2 linked regions of the Homo sapiens genome follow. The protein of the gene in region 1 interacts with the protein of each later gene in a pairwise test. Each region holds a gene or a part of one and is shown on either strand. Other genes may lie near its edges.

Region 1 (7,639 bases):
CGAAGGTATCCCCCAGTTTCCCCTCTGCCCCTGAGCACCTGCTGTTACAAGCAGGTCAGAGGACCTCCAATGTCAGCATCTGCGACTGTCCCCCGTGTCCCATGTTCCCGGGGCCCTCACCACCTGTGCTCCGGCTCAGACCCAGGAGCACGGCAGGTGGAGGAACATCAGCAGGGGAGACTGATGTTCCAGACTGTTCTACCCCGTTCACCTCTTCGTCTACGCAGGGAGAGCAACAGCTTCCACCCACCTCGCCCAACAAGGAGCCTAAGTGACTGACAAGCTCTGTGTGAACCACAAACCACTCAAAGGAATGAATTATAAAGATCCCTTGATGTGTAAGATCATTAGAAATAACACAAGATCATATAGGAAAGTAATTACAAAATGGAAAAAGCTGCAAATGATGTATCTCTGACAATTTACTAAGGAGGAATAAATTATTAAGCCCCCTCCATCCTCCGGTAATAGAAATTTAAAGTGCAATCTAGAAAACAATACAGTACTTTCTTGAAGGAAACATCTATCTTTTCCTGTAAGATCTAAAGAGACAACTGCGAGGTGGGCCCCGTCGTCCCAGCCTTCTTTCCAGCTGTGGGGGAGGAGCCAGCACCATCACCTGCCCCTTGTAGTTGGTGGGAATGCCGCCCATGTTATAATGCACGGTGGGGAGGACAGGGATCGGCTCCTTCGTGACGTCCACGCCAGCGAAGATCATGGCTGTCTCTGAAATGCCAGGCAGGCGCGTGGCCAGCTGCTCTGGAGGTAGGTGGTGCAGCTGCAGGTAGACGTGATCTTTCTCAGGGCCACAGCCTCTGGTAAGACAGAACACCATCACATACGGCAGAGAACGGCAACGGCAGGAGACCTGAGAATACGTCATCTTGGAAGTGTGTGAGTTTCAACATGTTTTGATACTGAGGAAAATTTCCCCTCATGTATGGTCACCCTCTCATCAAATCTTTTCTAAGCAGCTACTGTGTGCCAGGGACAATCCCAGGTGCTGGGACACAGCTGAGAACCAGAACAAAAACTCTGCCCTCACTAAACTCACGCTCGTCTCAGGGATCACAGCCTGCTGCAGGTGTCCTTGGTAAGTGCATTAGAAAGGCCTCTATGCCAAATACAGTCGTCCCTGCGTATCCGTGGCAGGTTGGGTCCAGGACCCCCACGGATACCAAAATCCGTGGATGCTCAAGTCCCTAATATAAAATGGGAGAGTATTTGCATATAACCTATGCACATCCTCCTCTATACTTTAAATCATCCTCATTTCAAGTTTTACGTTTAAGTTTTACAGCAACTCCAGGATGACTCATAGTACCTAATACAATGTAAATGCTACGTAAATAGCTGTTACACTGTATTGTTAAGGGAACAATGACAAGGAAAAAAAGTCTGCATATTTGTAAGGATGCAATTTTATTTTCAATACATAGTTGGCTGAAACCACACATGTGGAACCAATGGGTACGGAGGGCCACCATATTCCAAAAAACCATTTGACTTCTCTGTTTTTTTTTTTTTTTTTTTTTTTTTTGAGACAGAGTGTTGCTCTGTCGCCCAGGCTGGAGTGCAGTGGTGTGATCTCAGCTCACTGCAAGCTCCGCCTCCCAGGTTCACGCCATTCTCCTGCCTCAGCCTCCCGAGTAGCTGGGACTACAGGCACCTGCCATCACGCCCGGCTAATTTTTTGTATTTTTAGTAGAGACGGGGTTTCACCGTGTTAGCCAGGATGGTCTCGATCTCCTGACCTCCTGATCTGCCCGCTTCAGCCTCCCAAAGTGCTGGGATTACAGGCGTGAGCCACTGCGCCCCACCTGACTTCTCTGTTTTTTTAATATAAAAATGTAAAACCTCTAAAGGCCATACCAGCAGATATTTAGCAAATGTCATTACATTAAAGAACAGGGTCAGGCAATGAAAGAGCTGCAAACTGTTTTACTGAAAGCCAAATAACCCACACACTTTGAAAGCTGCCAAAAAACATCTGTGGGTATCAGACACAACACCCAAGGCTCACATGCCGACTTCAGGTTGGGTGTGTGTCTCTCTCTCCCATACTCCGTCACATACTCACACACACTAAGAGAAACTCTGTTCCACAGATTTGAGAAAGAAACTGGCTAAAATTTTCAAAATGTAGGTCTTTAGGAAAATATCGCAGACTAACAGACGCCTGCCAGCAGCTAAGAGAGGTGGCTGTGCACATGCGCCTGCACACGAAGGTGAGGGCGAGCGGTGCTGAAACTCACAGAAGCAACCCCGGCCCGTGTGCCCGCTCAGACAGTGCTGGTGGTAAATCACACGCACCTTCCTTCTCGGATCTCCAGAGTCATGGACCGAGACACCACATCTCTAGACGCCAGGTCCTTCGCGACAGGGGCGTATCGCTCCATAAACCTTTCGCCTTGACTGTTAATGAGAATGCCTCCCTCTCCACGACATCCTTCCGTAATGAGACAACCAGCACCATATATGCCTGCAAAAAACCACACATATTTATTACCTAACAATTGCTAGATCTCTATTTCAAATGCATTATTTTTTTCAAGACATTTTTTGGGGGAAAGAGGAAAAAGATAAGCAGAAGGCATTATGTGCAAAACTGCACAGCAAGACAGTTAAGATACAGTAGAAAGTCTGGATAACAAAAAGCACTGACAAGGCTGACAGCTGCAGCAGAGGCTGGGGCAGAGCGGTGTCCCCAGAGAGGAGAAAGGCCGGCCCACAGACCTCTGGCCAATACTCTGATTACAGCCCAGTGTACGTTGGATGCCTCAAATTTTGTTTTAATTTTTGAACATTCTTTTGCACTATGATACTGTGGTGACTAGTTAAGAATACTAGCTTGAAGTATTCATATCTAAATTATCCAAACAGTGACAAGGACAGTAATAATGATTATTTTAGATAATATTTACACTGCACTTGCTATGGGCAGTTCTAGCTGCTTTCCACATATTAACTCGTTTAAGTCTTACAACAACTCTGGGTAGTACGACCCCCTTTCTCAGTGACAAGCAAATTAACACTTGGTAACATCCAGTCATGCAGCTGAGGACAGAGCTCAAACCCAAACCTGGGTAGTCCGGCGGTCTGTGCTCCAAACAGCGGCTCTGTGACTCCTCAGTGCGATGAGAAACAGGGCATGCCAAGCTCTCGAATTTTAACAAAGGAGATCAAAAACCCTAAACTAAATGTATTTCGAAAGCTACAATTTTTATTAGTATACAAAAAGGGCAATCTTGCTTTTAAAAAACGAATGTGATTCTTGTCTGTCTTTTGATTTTCTAAGTTTCAATGCTCTTTTTTCTGTGGTTACTTCTCACATACTGAAGACAAAGCATGAGCAGTGGAGCTCTAAGCAAATTACAGAGGGAATTCAGGGGCTCAGTGACATTTTATTCATTAAAAACAGTAATAAAAAATACAACAGGCCGGGTGCAGTGGCTCATGGCTATAATCCCAGGACCCTGAGGGGCCGAGGCAGGAGGATGGCCTAAGCCCTGGAGTTTGAGACCAGCCTGGGCAAAACGGTGACATCCCGTCTCTACCAAAAACGAAAAAACCCTCGAAAATTAGCTGGGCATGGTAACACATGCCTGTAGTCCCAGCTGTTTGGGAGGCTGAGGTGGAAGGATCGTTTGAGCCTGGGAGACAAAGGCTGCAGTGAGTCAAGATTGCTCCACTGCACTCCAGCCTGAGCAACAGAGCAAGACCCCATCTCGAAACAAATAAAAAAAAAACACTACAACAAATTCATTTCTTATTTTCATCCCTTCCAGGGATCAGAAAGCTGACACTGACAGAGAAAGAGAAGACACAGGTCTGGTTCTTTGGCACCACTTCAGAGGTCTCCATCGTCCACAGGTCAGAAAAGCAACCCAGAAAAGTATAGGACAAGTCACCTCAAACAAGAGGCAGGTGTGTGTCTGTCTCTGACTCATTCTGAAGAACCTCCTCCAAACTCAAGACTTCAACTGTCATTTCTGAGTTAATGTCTCCGAATTGCACATTCGTAACCTCAACCGTCAGACGTCCCCAAGACGAGCTCATCTTCCCCACGACAAGCTCTCTCAGTGGTCACGTGGGCTGAGCCCAGCGCCCAATGTCACATGGGGTTCTGTCACGGCTGCGTCCTAACTTTACATCCCATTGTCACAGAAGCTCCGTGTTCTCCTACAAAGCTGAAGTCTGCCTGTGCTGCTTCTCGGTTCCATGGCATTCTCCCAGCTCTCAGAATGTTCACTCAGTAAACCCCGGTGGAGACCCTACCATGTGCTGGGCATGGAGCACCACAGCTAACGAGAAGACCTGCCTGCCCGAGGAGCTGACGACCTCGTTGCGAAGAGGGACACTGAACAATCCCTGCTTTACTTTTTTTTTTTTTTTTTTTGAGACGGAGTCTTACTCTGTTGCCCAGGCTGGAGTGCAGTGGCGCGATCTCGGCTCACTGCAACCTCTGCCTCCCAGGTTCAAGCATTCCTCCCACCTCAGCCTCCCAAGTACCTGGGATTACAGGTACACGCCATCACGCCCAGCTGATTTTTGTATTTTTAGTAGAGACGAGGTGTCACCATGTTGGTCAGGCTGGTCTCGAACTCCTGACCTCAGGTGATCCGCCCGCCTTGGCCTCCTAAAGTGCTGGGACTACAGGAGTGAGCCACTGTGCTCGGCCTCAATCCCTGCTTTACTGCTGGCTTAAGTATCACCAAGGCAGGGTTTAGCGCTCTTGAGAAATACATAAGACGGTGGCCCAAACTGCCTTAGGGGAAGGGGAGTGTGGGAAAAGTCTCCTTAGGTAAATGACGTTGAAGTTAGGACCTGAGAGCTGAGGAAGCTGATCTTCAAAACCATGTTATTACATAAAACTATGGAAGAGCAATGAGTAGGCATCACATGCTTACAAGACACACACAAGCCAAACACCTGCCGGGCAAGGCGTCCTGCCCTACCTGTAGGGTGGAACTGAACAAACTCTAGGTCCTGGCAAGGAAGGCCTGCCCTGGTGATCATGGCCGTGCCGTCGCCAGTGCTGGTGTGGGCAGACGTGCAGCTGAAGTAGGTGCGCCCGTAGCCTCTGGAAACAATAGAGAGCAGTGACTGCACACAGCGGCCCACATCTGGACCTCCTATCTGGTGAGATCACAGAATGGACACGGCAGCCCCCAGCACCGTCTTCTCAGTGCTGTGCACACACAACCCCCTACTCACGCACACCCCACACATATCACTAGGGGCCGCGCCACTGGTGCTGCTACCCTGCACAGGTAGGATAGAAGCCTGGGATCAAAGAAAGGACTTCCATTTGTATTTTATTTATTTATTTTGAGATAGGATCTAACTCTGTTGACCAGGCTGGAGTAGAGTGGTGCGATCTCGGCTCACAGCAACCTCCGGCTCCCAGGTTCAAGTGATTCTTCCGCCTCAGCCTCCCGAGTAGCTGGGATTACAGTGTGCACCACCACGCCCAGTTAATTTTTGTATTTTTAGTAGAGATGGGGTTTCACCATGTTGGCCAGGCTGGTCTCGAACTCCTGACCTCAAGTGATCCTCCCACTTTGGCCTCCCAAAGTGCCGGGATTACAGGCGTGAGCCACTGCACACCTGGCCCTATTTGTATTTTAGCTTTGTGCTGTTCAAAAGGTTTCCCCAATAAGCATATACTACTTTTATAATGAAAATTTTAAAATTTTTATGGATTTTTTTCTCCCCCAGATTTACTGAGGTATGATTGATGAATTTAAAAAAAAAACTATATATTTATGGTGTACAGCGTGATGATTTATTTTGTGAAATGATGACACAATCAAGTTAATACACATCTATCACCTCATACAATTATCCTTTTTTTGGAGATACAGACGCCTAACGTCTACTATCTTCGCAAATTTCAAGTTATAATATTAACGATAGCCACCATGCTGTATAATATTAACTCTAGCCACCATGCTGTATAATGTTAACTCTAGCCACCATGCTGTATAATATTAACGATAGCCACCATGCTGTATATTAACTCTAGCCACCGTGCTGTATAATGTTAACTCTGGCCACCATGCTGTATAATGTTAACTCTGGCCACCATGCTGTATAATGTTAACGATAGCCAGCATGCTGTATAATGTTAACTCTAGCCACCATGCTGTATAATGTTAACTCTAGCCACCATGCTGTATAATGTTAACTCTAACCACCATGCTGTATAATGTTAACTATAGCCACCATGCTGTATAATGTTAACTCTGGCCACCATGCTGTATAATGTTAACTATAGCCACCATGTTGTATATTAGACCTTCAGAACTTCACCTTGTAACGGGAAGTTACACCTTTAATCAGCATCGCCACAGTCTGCATTCCCCCAGCCCCTGGCAACCACTGTCCTACTCTGTTTCTGTGAGTTGTGACTGTTTTAGATTCCACATGAGTGACATGCAGTATCTGTCTTTCTGTGCCTGGCTCGTTTCACTTAACATAATGACTTTGGGTTCATCCACGTTGTCACACATGACAGGATTTCCTTCATTTTCATAGCCGAATAATATTCAGTTGTGTATACACACCACATTGTCATTAAACACCAACACATATTTAGGTTGTTTCCATATCTCGGGTATTGTGAATAATGCTGCAATGAACATAGGGTCCAGGTGTCTCTTTGAGCTTCTGATTTCATGCCCTTTGGATATACACCCAGAAATGGGGTTGCTGGAGCACATAGTAGTCCTATGAATTTTGAGGAACCTCCAGAGTTTTCCGTAATAGTTGTACTAATTTACATTCCCACCAACAGCACACAGGGTTCCCTTTTCTCCACATCCTCACCAACACTTGCTCTTTTGTCCTCTTGGTAACAGTCATTCTAACTGGAGCGAGATGAGATGATATCTCATTGGGGTTTTAATTTGCATTTCTCTGGTGCTTAGTGACGTTGAGCATTTTTTCATACATCAATTGGCCATTTGTATGTCTTCTCTAGAAAAATATCTATTCAAGTCCTTTGCCCATTTTTAGTAGGGTTGTTTTTTAGTAGGGTTTAGTAGGTTGTTTTTAGTAGGGTTTTTTTTTTGCTATTTTAGATAGTAAGATATTATTACACATATGGTTTGGAAAATATTTCTTCCCAACCTGTAGTTTTGCTGATTTTTTGTTTGGCTGTACTGACACTTTTTAACTTTTAAAATGGTTAAAGTAACTGACAGTGTATAAAATTAAAGTTACTTATTTTCATCATGTGGAGAAGAAGGACTTACCCACCCGAGGAATCAGTATCAATACAGTACCCACTAAAACAAGAGAGATTTTGCCAGAAAACCCCATGTTGACTCTTTGGGCCACAGTTCCCTCATCTAAATTGGGAGAGGTAAGCTGTGAACCTGAGGGCAACCACTACCATCTACTGAGGACCATGCTTTCTCACCCTGAGGCAGGTGCTCCTGTCCTCACCCTTTACAGGTGAGGAACCACGGCTGGGAAAGGCCATCACCCTCACATGGTTATATCAAGGCCTGTGTCTAAACCGTTATTCTACAATGCCTCTATTTTCATTAAAATAAAGAAACTCTAAATGAAATTTATTCATTTTTATAAACAAAATAAAGTAGAAATGAGATTCCTACCCTGTGGCAACAAC
Region 2 (7,639 bases), on another chromosome or scaffold:
GTTCATTCTTTTGTGTTGAGTAATATTCCATTGTGTGGATGTACCATGGTCTGTTCATCTTTTGACCAGCTGAGGGACATTAGGATTATTTCCAGCTTTAGGTGATTATAAATGAAGCCACTGTAAACATTTGCATACAGATTTTGTGAACATAGGTTTTAGTTTTTCTTGAGTGAATACTCAGGAGAAGGATTTGCTGGGTCATGTGGTAAGTGTATATGTTTAACTTTATAATAGGGCCAGGTGTGGTAGCTCATGCCTGTAATTTCAGCATGAGATCACATGCTCCTCCTCTGGGAAGCCGAGGCAGGTGGATCACTTGAGGCCAGGAGTTCGAGACCAGCCTGGCCAGCATGACAATACCCCGTCTCTACTAAAAATGCAAAAGTTAGCCGCGTGTGGTGGTGCGCCCAGCTACTCTGGAGGCTGAGGCAAGAGAATCTCTTGAATCCGGGAGGCAGAGGTTGCAGTGAGCCAAGATCACGCCACTGTGCTCCAACCTGGGCGACAGAGTGAGACTCTTTCAAAAAAATAAATAGGGCTGGGCGCGGTGAGTCAACACCTGTAATCCCAGCACTTTGGGAGGTCGAGGCGGGTGGATCACCTGAGGCCAGGAGATCGAGACCTTCCTGGCTAACACGGTGAAACCCCGTTTCTACTAAAACGACAAAAAATTAGCTGGGTGTGGTGGCGGGTTCCTGTAGTCCCAGCTACTCGGGAGGCTGAGTCAGGAGAATCGCTTAAACCTGGGAGGTGGAGGTTGCAGTGAGCCAAGATTGGGCCACTGCACTCCAGCCTGGGTGACAGAATGAGACTCTGTCTCAAAAATAAATAAATAAAACTTTTAGTACATTTTTTCTGTAATAGGTAAATATAGATAGTAAGCTTTTTCTATAATAGGTAAATATAGATAGTAAATACAGATAATGAATATTTTAGGCTTTGCAGGCCATACAGCCTCTCATAACTACTCACCTCGACCTTTGTAGCATGAAAGCAGCCACAGATAGCAGGTAAACGAATATGATTGTGTTTCAATAAAACCTTATTTGTGGACACTGAAAATAGAATTTCATACTGTTTTCACCAGTTATGAAATATACATTTGATTTTTTTTCCCCAACCATTAAAAAATCATTCTTGGCTGGATGCAGTGGCTCACACCTATAATTCCAGCGCTTTGGAAGGCTGAGGCAAAGGATCTCTTGAGGCCAGGAGTTTGGGACCAGCCTGGGCAACATAGACCCCCTATCTCCAAAAATAAAAATAAGTTAGCTGGGCTTGGTGGTGCACACTGTATTCCCAGCTACTTGGGAGGATCACTTGAGCCCAGGAGTTCAGAGACTGCAATGACCTATGATCACGCCACTGCATTTCAGCCTGGGCAAGAGTGAGACCCAATCTCTAAAAATCATTCTTAGCTCACAGGGCATAGTTTGCCAGCTTCTGTGCTAAGCAAAAGAGGTCAAACTCAACCAGACGCGGTGGCTCACGCCTGTAATCCCAGCACTTTGGTAGGCTGAGGTGGGCGGATCACGAGGTCAGGAGATTGAGACCATCTTGGCCAACATGGTGAAACCCCGTCTCTACTAAAAATACTGGGCGTGGTGGTGGGCGCCTGTAATCTCAGCTACTTGGGAGGCTGGGGCAGGAGAATCTCTTAAACCAGGGAGTCGGAGGTTGCAGTAAGCCGAGATCATGCCACTATACTCCAGCCTGGGTGACAGAGCGAGGCTCCATCTCAAAAAAAAAAAAAAAAAGATCAGACTCAACAAGTACATACTCAGTACATAATTGGACTCCAAGAATGTGATTCTGTTTACATGATAATCTGAAAAAGGCAAAACTTACAGGGACAAATCAGTGATTGCCAGGGTGTTGGATGTGAAGGGAGGGGTTGGTGTTCCACATCTTTACCCACACTTTGTATTATCAGGGTTTTGTTTTTGTTTTTAGCCATTCCAAGAAGTATATATTGGTACATCACTATAGTTTTAATTGGCATGTCCCTAATGACTAATAATATTGAGGATCTTTTCAAGGGCTTATCAGCCCTTTATGTATATTTGGTGACATGTCTCTTCAAATTCCGCCCCCCACCACTCCTCCCTTTTTTTTTTTTTTGAGACAGGATCTCACTCTGTCACCCAGGCTGGAGTGCAGTGGTGCAGTCATGGCTCAGTGCAGGCTCCACCTCCTGGGCTCAAGCGATCCTCCCACCTCAGCCTCCAGAATAGCTGGGACTACAGGCCGGCAGCACCATGCCCAGCTAATTTTTGTTGTTGTTGTATTTTTTGTGGAGATGAGGTTTTGCCATGTTGCCCAGACTGGTCTCAAACTCCTGAGCTCAAGCAATCCACCTGCCTCGGCCTCCCAAAGTGCTGGGATTACAGGTGTGAGCCACCATGCCTGGCCAGATTTTCCATTTTGGAAGATACTTTCACTGGATATAGAATTCGAGGGTCACAATGTTTTTTCTTCTGTTAAATAGAAACACTTCTACCGCCAGCTCTTAGTGTACAAGATCGGGTAGTCAGGAGTTCCGCTGGGTTTGGACTTTGGTTTTGCTCTGGTTACCTTCAGTGCATCACCAGCTTCATATTCCCTCCGGTGTTACCATGTGCTGTTTTCTCATTTCCATAGTTTGTGACGAGGTCTGCTGTATCTTTGTTCCTTTTTATGTGTCTTCTCTTTCTGAATCTTTTCAATATTTTGTCTTTGGTTTCTAGCCGTTTCAATATTATATACATAGGTATTTATTTGATATTTATATATGTAGGCATTTGATATTTATCGTGCTTTTGGGTTCTCTGGGCATCTTGGATCTGTGTTTTCATATCTTTTATTATTGTTGAAAAATTCTCAGCTGTTACCCCTTCAGCTATTTCTTCTGCTTTGTTTTCTCCCTCTTTTCCTTCTAGGATTCTAGTTATACTTAGTTAAATGGTTTAATATTGTCCAACAGCTGTTGTGGGGGTTTTGTTTTTTGTTTTTTTGAGACAGTCTTGCTGTGTCACCAAGGCTGGAGAGCAGTGGCGCAATCTTGGCTCACTACAACCTCTGCCTCCTGGGTCCAAGCGATTCTTGTGCCTCAGGCTCCTGAGCAACTGGGACCACAGGCACGTGCCGCCATGCCTGGCTAATTTTTTTGTATTTTTCACAGAGACGGGTTTCACCATGTTGGCCAGGCTGGGCTTGAACTCCTGGCCTCAAGTGATCCGTCTGCCTCAGTCCCTTAAAGTGTTGGGATTACAGGCGTGAGCCACTGTGCTCAGTCTGTCCAACAGCTTTTGGGTTCTCTGTTTTGTGTTTTTTATTCTTTTTTCTCTTTGTGCATCAGTTTGGGTTATTTGTATTAGATAATATCTATTGACCTGTCTTCCACTAATTCTTTCCTTGATGATGTCAAATCTCATGATGGGCCTGTTGAAACCATTCTGCATATCTGCTACTGTATTTGTTTTTAGCATTTCCATTTGACTTTTGGAGTTTCCAACTCTGCTAGAATTTCTCATCTGTTCATACATTTTGTCTGCTTTTTCCACTGGCGCCTTTAATATTAGTCATAGTCATTTTAAATTCCCTGTCTGATAGTTCTAACATCTGGGTCATCCCTCAGTCTGCTTCTGTTGATTTCTTTGTCCCTTGACAGTGTGTTGTTTTTTTCTTCTTTTGTGTATATGTCTCGTAATTTTCTCATAATTGTATTTATGCTTACAATTGGGGATGCTTCTTCTACTTTACTGTTAGTGTGGGGATCAAGTCAGTGAGTTGGGAGGTAAGCTCAGCTTGGGTTGTTTTTGCTTTGGTTACCTTCATTGCATTACTAGTGTCTAGCGTTAACGTGTGCTTAGAGTGGAAGCTGGCTCTGTCGCCCAGGCTGGAGTGCAGTGGCACCCTCTCGGCTCACTGCAACCTCCACCTCCCAGGTTCAAGCGATTCTCCTGCCTCAGCCTCCTGAGTAGCTGAGACTACAATCACGTGCCACCACACCTGGCTAATTTTTTTTTTTTTTGAGACGGAGTCTCACTCTGTCACCCAGACTGGAGGCAGTGGCGCGATATCGGCTCACTGCAAGCTCTGCCTCTTGGGTTCATGCCATTCTGCTGCCTCAGCATCCCGAGTAGCTGGGACTACAGGCGCCCGCCACCACGCCCGGCTAATTTTTTGTATTTTCAGTAGAGACGGGGTTTCACCGTTTTAGCCAGGATGGTCTTGATCTCCTGACCTCGTGATCCACCCGCCTCGGCCTCCCAAAGTGCTGGGATTACAGGCGTGAGCCACTGTGCCCAGCCTGTGTCTGTGGTTTTATACACTCATGCTAGCCCACACTTGGCTTTTAACAATTCATTGCAAATTTTAGTGGCACAGGCCTGCAGTCCCAGCTGCCCTGGAGGCTGAGGCAGCAGGATCGCTGGAGCCCAGGAATTCTTGGCTGCAGTGCTCTATACCAATCAGGTGTCTGCTGTAAAGTTGGCAACAGTATGTTGACCTCTCAGAAGCAGGGGACCACCCGATTCCCTAAGGAGGGGTGAACCAGCCCACGCTGGAAATGGGACAGGTCGAAATTCCTGTGCTGATCAGTGGTGGAATTGCACCTCTGACTAGCCACTGCAGTCTCCCCTGGGCAACATAAGGCTGGCCCTGTCTGTATTAATTTAAAACAAATTTTTTTGGCTGGGCGTGGTGGCTCACGCCTGTGATCCCAGCACTTTGGGAGGCAGAGGTGGGCGGATCACAAGGTCAGGAGACCAAGACCAGCCTGACTAACACAGTGAAACCCCATCTCTACTAAAAAAAAAAAAATTACAAAAAATCAGCCGAGCGTGGTGGCGGGCGCCTGTGGTGCCAGCTACTCGGGAGGCTGAGGCGGGAGAATGGCGTGAGCCCAGGAGGTGGAGCTTGCAGTGAGTCCAGATCGCACCACTGCACTCCAGCCTGGGCGACAGAGTGAGACTCGTCTCAAACAAAAAAAAAAATTTTTTTAGCTGAATTCCTTTTACCCATTTGTATGATGTCCAGTGTCTCTTCTTCCTGTGCCTGCCACAGGTGAGCAAGTGCATGGCTCTCGTTTCTCCTTTGAAGGGCCTCTTTTTCCTTAGGTTTCGTCTGTTGGGTTGCCTCGTGACCTCAGTTCTCTGATATCTTTGAGAAAAGTCATAATATTTGTAATTTATCTGGCTTTTTCTTGTTGTTACAGTGAGTGCAATATTCTTTCCAACTTTCTACTTTCTTGGGGGAAGCCAAAACCTCTTTGATCTTATGTTGATTGTCACATGAAAACAGAGCCCTCACTAGATGCCAGGCCCTGTGCTGAGTAAGGGAGAATCTGACTTGGTTTTGAGGAATTCTCTCTCCTGGCGTCGTACCTAGTGTTGGTGGAAGGGTAATTCTGGAGCACATTGCCTCGGCTTTGGCAGTGGGAGGCTTTGCTTGTAATTGGCATCTTAAATAAGTGTCCCAAGGGTGTAGAGAAAGGTCAGGGGGAGCAGCACACTGCCAGACCCACTGCCGTAGACTGAGGCTGGCCTTCTCATTCTTCTGACTCAGTGCCTATGTTGCCCGTTCACTGAAATCTGGTTCTTTAGGCTCATGACAGTTCTGTGTGCCTCCAATATCCTTCCAATAAATTCCTTTTTGCTTAAGTTTACTAGAGTTATTAGTTTCTGTCTCTTAAAACTGAGGACCTCTAACTGATAGACAAAGGAGAGAGCTTTTGTTTCAAGAGATATATACATTGCAAGGGAAAACACAATGTCTGGGGAACAATGGAATTGCCAAATGCAAAGCAAAATAGTACAGCCAAGATTGTGCGGGCCAGGGGTCAGCAAACTTGTTCATAAAGGACCAGATAGTAAGTATTTTACTTGTAGTCATATGGTCTCTGTTGCAAGTACCCAATTCTGCTGTCATAACACAAAAGGAGCATGGGTAATATGTAAACCATTGGGAGCAGCTGTTCCAATAAAACGACTTGCAAATATAGGCTCACACAGTTTGCCACCCCCTGGTATAGGCTAACATCGTGTATATTTAGAAGAAGGATGGAGACAGTCTATATATCCATCTGTGGTTCTTGGCCAGTGTTTCGAGTTTTAAGATTCTCATACCTGAGCATTGACTGACTATGGCATAATTTTTTCTGCCCACTCTTCTCTTGCAGAAGCTAAACCAGCCCCAGAAATATTTGAAAATGAAGTCATGGCCCTGCTGAGAGACTTTGCTAAAAACAAAAACAAAGAGCAGAGACTGCGTGCCCCAGATCTTGAGTACCTCTTTGAAAAGCCACGTTGAGCTGTGCTCCACGGCCTGGCATGGGGGTTCAGTCTGTGGATGGTAACTACTTATGATGGACGTTAGCCTTGCTTCCGGCTTCTTAGATGCCCAGCTGCCCTACCCCAGACCACTGGTCCTGCCTCAAGTGATGGACATAACCCTCTCCTAGGACATACATGTAAATGCACAATGTGACTCATTCTCATACTTTTTTGTTCAGCTCTGAGCCTCAAAAGTGATTTGTCAGCAGCGCTGGCATGCAGGCTTTGCCTGGCTGCTATCTCTAGAGGCAAGTCTGCCACGAGAGGGCACTGCAGGCGAAGCAGTTGTGCTTGCTCATTGCCTCAGCCCAAGTGTACTCAAAGAAAAGAGGCAGCCAGCTGTGCGTGCTGTATGGAAAGCCTCCCGCCCTCCCTGCAGCTCCCCGCCCTCAGTGGCCCAGGGCTTTGTTGAAGTGGAACTCCCCACTTCCAACCTGGTATGGCTCCTTCTGCGAAGGGAAGCTGATCCCAGCCTCCTGAGCTGAATCCTTCAAAGGCACAGCAGGCAGAATGAGGGCCACAGGCAGGAGTGGTGTGGGCACACTGCTTAGGAGTCAACATCTTCATCATTGGGCTTTCTTTAAAACGTGCACTTTGTAATTTGAAAGAGAATTATTAAAGCATACTGAAAAAAGGAAATTTACAATTTCCCAGCCCTCACAATTAATTTTAATTTTGTCTATTTTCATATAACCCATAGTCATGTTTATAGAGTTTTACAAGTTCACAATTACAGGTTTTATTTTCATGTAGCACTATAGAAAACTTTCCCCCTCATTCCTACAGTCTTCACAATTAGTTGACTAAATAATAATACATAAGAAATAATATATTAGAATGAATTAGTTAGAAGTGTTTTTAAAAGCTCTAGGGCTGTGTGACTTCTGTGTTGCTAGTGGTGCCCTCCCTGGAGGGGTTTTGCCCTCAGAGCTGTAATCTAGGCAGTAGAATCAGTCACCCAGACTGGACCAGGTGCATCTAAAGGTGTTGACTAGAAGAAGGTCGGCCAGATTTGATGAGCAGGTGGTTGGTGATTATAGGAGCCGCACACAGGGACTACACACGCACATGTTTCCAGCATTGTTGAGCTCCAGGGTTCCTACAGAGCCACCTCATGGTTCCTGCCTGCTCTTCAGTATCCCTGGTGGCTCAGGAGGGAAGGGAAGAGATCTAGCCTTTACGTAATCACAGTTAAGCCTCACAGCACTCTAGACTAGTGGTGTTACCTGTATTTTATACATAAGAAAGTGGGCTCAGAGAGAGGAAGTAATTTGTCCAAGGTCAGGTAGCTATTGAGTCGAAAAAGCAGAATTTAGTATAGC

The links. Proteins that work in one complex are often made in the same cells at the same time.
Region 2: the proteins of SDHA (region 1) and SDHAF2 interact in binary tests that used the Homo sapiens proteins (3 or more experiments, as listed by UniProt).

The regions. Positions count from the first base shown.
Region 1 is NC_000005.10:228,320-235,958, reverse strand, and holds part of SDHA (succinate dehydrogenase [ubiquinone] flavoprotein subunit, mitochondrial), read right to left. Parts: coding exon 7,626-7,639; intron 5,084-7,625; coding exon 4,959-5,083; intron 2,483-4,958; coding exon 2,314-2,482; intron 816-2,313; coding exon 620-815; intron 1-619. UniProt on the Homo sapiens protein: Flavoprotein (FP) subunit of succinate dehydrogenase (SDH) that is involved in complex II of the mitochondrial electron transport chain and is responsible for transferring electrons from succinate to ubiquinone (coenzyme Q).
Region 2 is NC_000011.10:61,439,778-61,447,416, forward strand, and holds the end of SDHAF2 (succinate dehydrogenase assembly factor 2, mitochondrial), read left to right. Parts: intron 1-6,163; coding exon 6,164-6,294; 3' UTR 6,295-6,956; downstream 6,957-7,639.